Homo sapiens: one gene and its partner. The protein of the gene in region 2 purifies or fractionates together with the protein of the main gene of each other region. This does not show direct contact. Each region holds a gene or a part of one and is shown on either strand. Other genes may lie near its edges. The genes, in order: OLFM4 and DSC2.

What was found.
Region 1: the proteins of DSC2 (region 2) and OLFM4 purify together in Homo sapiens (co-immunoprecipitation; one large-scale study listed by IntAct). This does not show direct contact.

The regions. Positions count from the first base shown.
Region 1 is NC_000013.11:53,038,613-53,042,443, reverse strand, and holds part of OLFM4 (olfactomedin-4 precursor), read right to left. Parts: intron 535-3,831; coding exon 322-534; intron 1-321. UniProt on the Homo sapiens protein: May promote proliferation of pancreatic cancer cells by favoring the transition from the S to G2/M phase. In myeloid leukemic cell lines, inhibits cell growth and induces cell differentiation and apoptosis.
Region 2 is NC_000018.10:31,081,632-31,085,462, forward strand, and holds part of DSC2 (desmocollin-2 isoform Dsc2a preproprotein), read right to left. Parts: intron 1,430-3,831; coding exon 1,295-1,429; intron 793-1,294; coding exon 607-792; intron 1-606. UniProt on the Homo sapiens protein: A component of desmosome cell-cell junctions which are required for positive regulation of cellular adhesion.

The DNA of each region.
Region 1 (3,831 bases), on a different chromosome or scaffold from region 2:
TCATATAGCTTGGCCATGAACCGTTGTTCAACTTTATGCCAGCTCCTTTTCAGAGAAGTTGAAAGGGCATTTTATTCTGGGGCAGGATTCTGACCATTAGACAACATCTGCTCCTAAGTCAGCACATTCCCAATGTGCTTAACTTACTATTCAAACACATGCCCTTATCCAAAACAGAACATAGTGATATGCCATGTGGCCATGAGACAGTAGAGAATTAGAAGTTGGAAGAGATAGTTTCACTTCCTGGTACTAGTACTTGCTTACAGTCACTGAAGGGAGTTTATTATTAATTTACCAAGAAGTGAGTTCACTCCTTACCTCCACCTCCAGCTGGTCAACAATTTCTGAGCTTCCACCAAAACTCTCCTTCAGCTGTATGACCAGTTTTTCCATCTCCTTCACTTCTACCTTGATCAGCTCGAAGTCCAGTTCAGTGTAAGAAATGGTATCCTTCTCCATGATGTCAATTCGGACAGTTAGGTTTAACAGTTTCTTTTCATACACACTAATTAATTGGACATATTCCCTCACCTGAAAGAAAATCAAAAGGTTCAAGCCAATTCCCTGAGTAGTATCACACCATCTTCTTCCACTACCGAGCCCTTGAGTTGAGAACTATTTGATTCTTGCCAATCATTGTGTTTTGTAAATAAATAGATCAAAAATACATTTAACTAGATTTTTAAAATCTATCCATATACAAAGAACTTATTACTCCAATTGAAGGGAGGTAGATTTTATACTTTGCTAGGCTAAACATAATTTTGCTTCAGCATCATCATTTGCAGGTATATTTTAATCTCCATTTTTTAAAAAGGTTTTAGGCTCAGGGGTATATACCCAGGTTTGTTATATAGGTAAACTCATGTCATGGGGGTTTGTTGTAAAGGTTATTTTGTCTCGCAGGTACTAAACCTAGCACCCAATAGATTTTTTTGTTGTTGTTCCTCTCCCTCCTTTCACCCTCCACCCTCAAGTACGCTTCTGTTGTTCTCCTCTTTGTGTCCATGTGTTCTCATCATTTAGCTCTCATTTATATGTGAGAACATGTGGTATTTGGTTTTCTGTTCTTGTGTTAATTTGCTTCGGAGAATGGCTTCCAGCTCTCTATCCATGTTCCTACAAAGAACATGATCTCATTCTTTCTTATGGTTGCAAAGTATTCCATGGTGTATATGGCCCATATTTTCTTTATCCAGTGTACCATTGATGAGCATTTAGGTTGATTTCATGTCTTTGCTATTGTGAATAGTACTGCAATGTACACACACGCCCATGTATCTTTATGGTAGAACAATTTATATTCCTTTGGGCATATACCCAGTAAAGGGATTGCTAGGTTGAATAATAGTTCTTTTTAGTTCTTCGAGTCACCACACTGCTTTCCACAATGGCTGAACTAATTTACACTCCCACCAACAGTGTATAAATGTTCCCTTTCCTCTGCCATCTCACCAGCATCTGTTATTTTTTTACTTTTTAATGATAGCCATTCTGGACTGGTATGAGATGGTATCTTACTATGGCTTTGATTTGCATTTCTCTAATGATCAAGTGATATTGAGCCCTTTTTTCTTAATCTCCATTTTAATGTTTGAAGACATTAACTCCCCAAACTAAACTGGTTTGTATCATAGTCTCTTGCCATCTCTCCTCCCTTCAACACACTTACTCTAATTGTTTCTCAACCTCAGCACTGTTAGCATTTGGGACTGGATTGTCATTTCTTGTGGGGGTTGTGCTGTGAATTACACAATATTAAGCAGCATCCCTGGCTTCTTCATGCCAGTTGCATCCAACCACTCTCCAGTTATGATAACCAAAAATGTCTCTGGGCATTGCTAAATGTTCCCTGGGGACAAAATCGTTGCCACGGCCAACACCACCCTCCTTCCATTTAGAAACATGGCTCTACATCTAAGTATTTTCTGGAGAAGGGAGAAATGCGCTATGCCGAATTCCTTCTTTGATCGCCATATACAATTAGTTTTGATCCCCTCTGCCTTTTACAAAGTGGCATAGAGATCCAACCTACTACACAATATGTGAGTGTGTGTGCCCTGTAGAGTACACATTTCATTAAGTGCACCCACATTTATTCCAAGAACTGATTATTGCAATCAGACCTTTAAATTACAGATTTGTTGCATATATTTGAATGTCTGATCATTAAGTTAAAATACTTCCAAAAATTCCCTTGGCAGTTTAGTGTATAATTGGAATATCCAAGTGGATATTTTAATAAACACAGTTGGTGGTTCTTTCTGTGTCTGATCTCTAAAGAAAATGCCATGGCTTTTTTAAGGACCTGCTCATTAAATAAGTTGCTGGCTTTATATGCTTTTTAAAAATTTGAACTGAAGTGATACTTTTCCCAAAACTACACTAATATCAAGTAGCTGATCCACAGTGCCTGGATGAATTTAGAGCCAGATGTTGGCCTTTAATCCTTCTTATACCAAAAGCAATCCTAACTTCTGTCATTTCAGCCCTTCCACTTAACCCCATTGTGCAAATTAAAGTAGACTCATAGACCACAGACCTGAAGGGCTAGGGCTTCAGGCAAAAAGGATTTTAATGAAAGTCGAAAAAACAGTCCTTGGCACTGCTAGTGTATCTCCTCGGGCAACTGATGCTCACTGCCATTGGATGTACCATAACTCGGAGGATGACAAAGCTGGTGATATTTTGGTGGATAGGGAGGTTAAAACATATATACGGCCACCTCTTAGTATCCATGGTGGATTGGTTTCAGAACCTCCCAAGAATAACAAAATTCAAGGATGCTTAAGACTCTGACAGAAAATGGTACAGTATTTGCCTACAATCTACACACATCCTCCCAAATACTTTAAATCAAGTCTAGATTACTTATAATACCTAAAACAATGTAAATGCTATATAAATCATTGTTGTATTGTTTTTTATTTGTATAGTTCCTGTTGTTACATGGTTATTTTTATTAGTTTTTTTCCGTGAAATTTTTCAATCTGAGTTTGGTTATATCTGCAGATGCGGAACCAAGGCTATGGAGGGCTCACTATATATAAAACCTAACAAGTCCCCCTGAGAAGTGCACTGCAGATATAGGGCTGCCAGGTTCCAGTGTCTACAAAACTCAGGCATAAAACCTTGACTATGATAAAAATAAATAAAGTGCCAATCCATTACAGAAATGGAAGTTTGAGAAATAAATATGCTTGTTGGCATTTGGCCTTGCCAGCTCTTGGAACAAATGAAACACCCTCAGCTTCTCTGGAACATTTTGGTGGCACATCGCAGCTGTTGTTCTACAAAAATGAGTGATTCAACTGTCATCTCTGCTAAATAAAATGTGGTTCTCCTAGATTTTCACAAAAAAAAGCAAGGCATATTCTGGAGTTTGTTACCTATAAAAATGTGTGGTGTGCCTGCCCTGGTGCAGACAAAATGAAGGGTCTGTAAAGATCCATTTGAGGAAAAAACTCAAGGTTCTTCAGCTGACACTTAAAGGATGCTCAGTGGTGTTCAGGAAAATGGCAATCATCCATGGAGTTAGAGAAGACACAAAAGAGCTTGGGGATGGGCCAGAAAGACTTCAGAGTGTGAACTTTACTAATTTAAGTAAATCATTCATATGAACTTTTCACATATATGAATCTGTAGCTTTGGGAATGCGTGGACAATGCTGACCACATGTCAGCTCCTCCTGGGAGGTGCAGTCTTGGGAGAGGCAGCCCAGCCTGCCTGGGAGCCTCCAGTCCCACATCTGGCACTTGGGGCACTTTCTGCATTTTTTTCTTCTTCTGGAAAATACAGTCATTTGCTGCATAACATTTTTGTCTATGA
Region 2 (3,831 bases):
TGTTCTGGTTAAAGATGCAGCAGAAATAAGTCTATAAATTTGTCCAAGGCTAAAGGAGCTCAGATTGCTTTATGCACTAACTCTGGCTGCTGAAATAGTATTAGAAAGAAGTTTTAGAAGTGTTTGCATTGTTGAATCACTGAGGATTTTCATTCTGAACCTGGATGCTAAGGATGTAATATATACTGAATATGATGAACAAACCTATGAATAACCTCTCCATGGGGCTGACCAAGAGTAACTCTTGATTTGGGAAATTCAGTAAGTAAATAAAGGCTCCTTGACCCAAACACAGAAAAACTGGGCTAGGAAAAGTCTGGCACTGTCCCAGGGGCATCAAAGCTGTGCTAGTTTTTGAACCATTTAAAGATATTGGTTACAAAATAGATATTGTATTATATGGACTTTTTAAAAAAAAAAATACCTAAACAAAAGATTATCAAAAACTAATATATTCTTTCCATTGTATATGAAGAACAGAGCATTTGCATTTACTTATATACCTATTTTATTCTACATTTATCAGAATTCCTTTCTTTCCATTAAATTCTAGCATGCTATTCTATGATATTATAAACTACAAATAATGTTCTAATTTATTCTTACCTTAACTACACAAAGAACTCCTTCATTGGTTTTGGCATCTGTTACAATTTTAAAATTGCCATTTTCATTGCCCTTTAAAATGGTATAATTAGCTCTCCAGTTAGCAGTATTCACTAAGTCCTTATCCTCAACAGTAACTCGTAAGATTTCCACATCAACTGTATTTTCTTCCACTGATGTCACATACTAAAATAATAAAAGCAAACAAAAAATTTCGTTAGTAACTCTCACAAAAATTGAACACGATGTGAAGTAAATCCTACTCTTCTAATTTCCAAAGTACTATGTTTACATGATTTGAAACCCTAGCACTATACAACTTTTAATGTCACTGGGGCACTTCATTTGAAATCATGAGGGGTGGATGGGGATGTGCATTTTTTTCTTTTCCTTCACTGCAACCTCTGCCTTCCACGTTCAGGCGATTCTCCTGCCTCAGCTTCCCGAGTAGATGGGATTACAGGTGCCTGTCACCATGCCCGGCTAATTTTTGTATTTTCTGTAGAGACGGGATTTCACCATGTTGGCCAGGCTGTTCTCAAACTCCTGACCTCAGGTGATCCGCCCGCCTCGGCCTCCCAAAGTGCTGAGATTACAGGCGTGAGCCACTGCGCCAGGCCAGAGATGTGCATATTAAACAATTAAAACTGGTCTATACATTTTTCTTTAATTAATATCATACACTTACAGAAGTACGAGTAAATGTTGGCAAGTGGTCATTTACATCATCAATGTTAATGATACAAGTTGAAGTTGTCTGTAGACCAAAATACTGACCATCCATGTCTTGTACTTTTATTTTCAACTGGTACTTGTCAATTAACTGAAAACAAAAAAAGAATTTAATTATTGGGGGAAAGCACCAACATTATAATTGAAATCTTACTTTACACTCCATAATTTTTTTGCACTAAGAATTTAAGAAGTGCATTATTACATTTCACAGCATTCGTGTATTAGAAGAATTTTCTCTCACTAGTAATTTTTCTTTTCTTTTCTTTCTTTTTCTTTTCTGAGACGAAGTCTCGCTCTGTTGCCCAGGCTGGAGTGCAGTGGTGTGATCTTGGCTCACTGCAACCTCTGCCTCCCGGGTTCAAGCGAGGCAGGAGAATCACACTAGGAATTTTTAATCAATTTATGAAAATTGAATAGTTTCTCAAATTTATAGTGCTATTAACTTACAGAATATAGATTCAATTGGTTTTGTCTTTATTCAACAGAAAAAGAAGAGCTATTTGCCACAAGTGCATTTAAAATTGCCTGGTAATTAATCAAAACCTTTATCTCCTAGCCAAAGTACATTCTTATGTTCAAAAAAATAGACAGCAATGACTCTTAAAATAGTCTTTTAACAAAACAATAAAATGAAATTTCTTCCTGCAAAAAATATAGATTTTAAGGGTTTATGTTACATTTAAGAGATCATCTAAACTGACATGAAGATAAAGGTCTGGGGCTATGTAGGTTTTTTTCTTTCTGTGGAAAATAGAATCTGGCTCTTAAGGCTTTCAATTTATCAGATATTGTTGAAAACTCATCACTACCTTAAAAAATATTTTTAAACATCTGAAGCATTTAAATATTTTAAAGTGTTTCTCCTTATAACTTTCATTTATCATAAGTGATTGAGATATGGGAGAATTAAAAACAATACAGTAATAATGCTTTCCGGACTGAGCATTAGGAGACTTGGGTTCTATTTCCAACTCCAAAAATAAGAGACACAATCTTGGGCAATTGGAAAATTCACTTTGTCTAGGTTTCTTCTTCTATAAGATGGTGATGCTTACCTTTCCTACCTAATTTATCTCTTTTCATAAGACAAAATAGCATGTTAAAATCTATCCTCATCTTCTACCTAGAATGTTCACCCTTCTCTTACAAAGATTCTTCCCTTAATTCCATCATCTCTGAAACTTTCTTTTCCTTAGGCATTATCTAAAATAAAACTAAAGTTTCTCTTGATCTTCCTGCTTTTAACACACATAATTTTCCAGATTTACTCCTCCCTCATAACCAATCACATGTGTAGACTTGAAAAATAATGGCCTTATTTCAACTGAAAAATTTTAAAACATCATGCTACTGTACTTTCAAGAAGGAATACATATTTTGTTTGTAGTGAACTAAAATTTATTGGAAATAATTAACTGGCTAATGAAACAAGGAAATGAAGTTTGATACCCTAAGTATTAACTTATGCTATCTTCAGATGGAAGAGAAATTCTGATGTTTAAAGGGACTAAAAGGTTGTAGGCAACTGAAGAAAACCGGAATCCTGAGGTCAAAAAGTTACTAGAGAGCACCACTGGATAAACACCTTCACTGGACAAGTGTTTTCAACTGATTATTTCAGAAGAATCTATTCAAAGAAAAGCACTTCTGTGATTGTTTGATTTAGGAGCTGAACAAGCTGTTGAGTTTTTGCTTTTTTTTTTTTTCCATAGAATGCTATTTTCACATAGACATCTATGGCTATGCAGACTATAGTTTTATGAAAGTATTTTGTAAAACATAAAGTTAATCTGTCACTTCAGGGAAAACAACTATTTGTTGCCAATGATAAATTGGAGATTTCAAACAAAAATGAGAAGCTTGGAAAACCTTTATCAACCAATGTGATATCAATGGAAGTAAAGAGGTGATCTTTTTGATATTATTTAATGCAATGTGTCAATATTTGGAAGCTCTGCATTACTTGGTGAACCAATATTTTCCAAATGACCAATGCACAATATAGAATGATGTACTGGTAAAATGGTCACTCAAAGTGTAAGATAGAGCAATGGATTTTAACGTAATAAAGTACAAAAGGTCATTGTTGAGGATTCAGAGTCCACATTACCAAAAACATTTAGGAAACAAGCTACTCCTTATCAAGTATTCATGTAGTATCAAGGAATAATATCCACAGTGATCTGTAATTATCATCAAAATACTACTCTCTTTTCTAATTTTATATCATGTCAGATTGCCTTTATATATGCTTCAGCTAAAACTACATATTGTAACAGACTAAATGCAGAAGGAGATATGAGAATCCACCTGTCTTAAGCAAAATACTAAAAACATTTGGAAAAATGCATAACAATGTCATTCTTCCCACTAAATTGTACTGTTTTGGAAAATGTACTTATTTTGTAAGTACAAAAAGAAGAAAAAGTGTAACAATTTTTACTGTTATTTTATAAGAATTTTAACTGTTAACATGTAATTAATTTATTA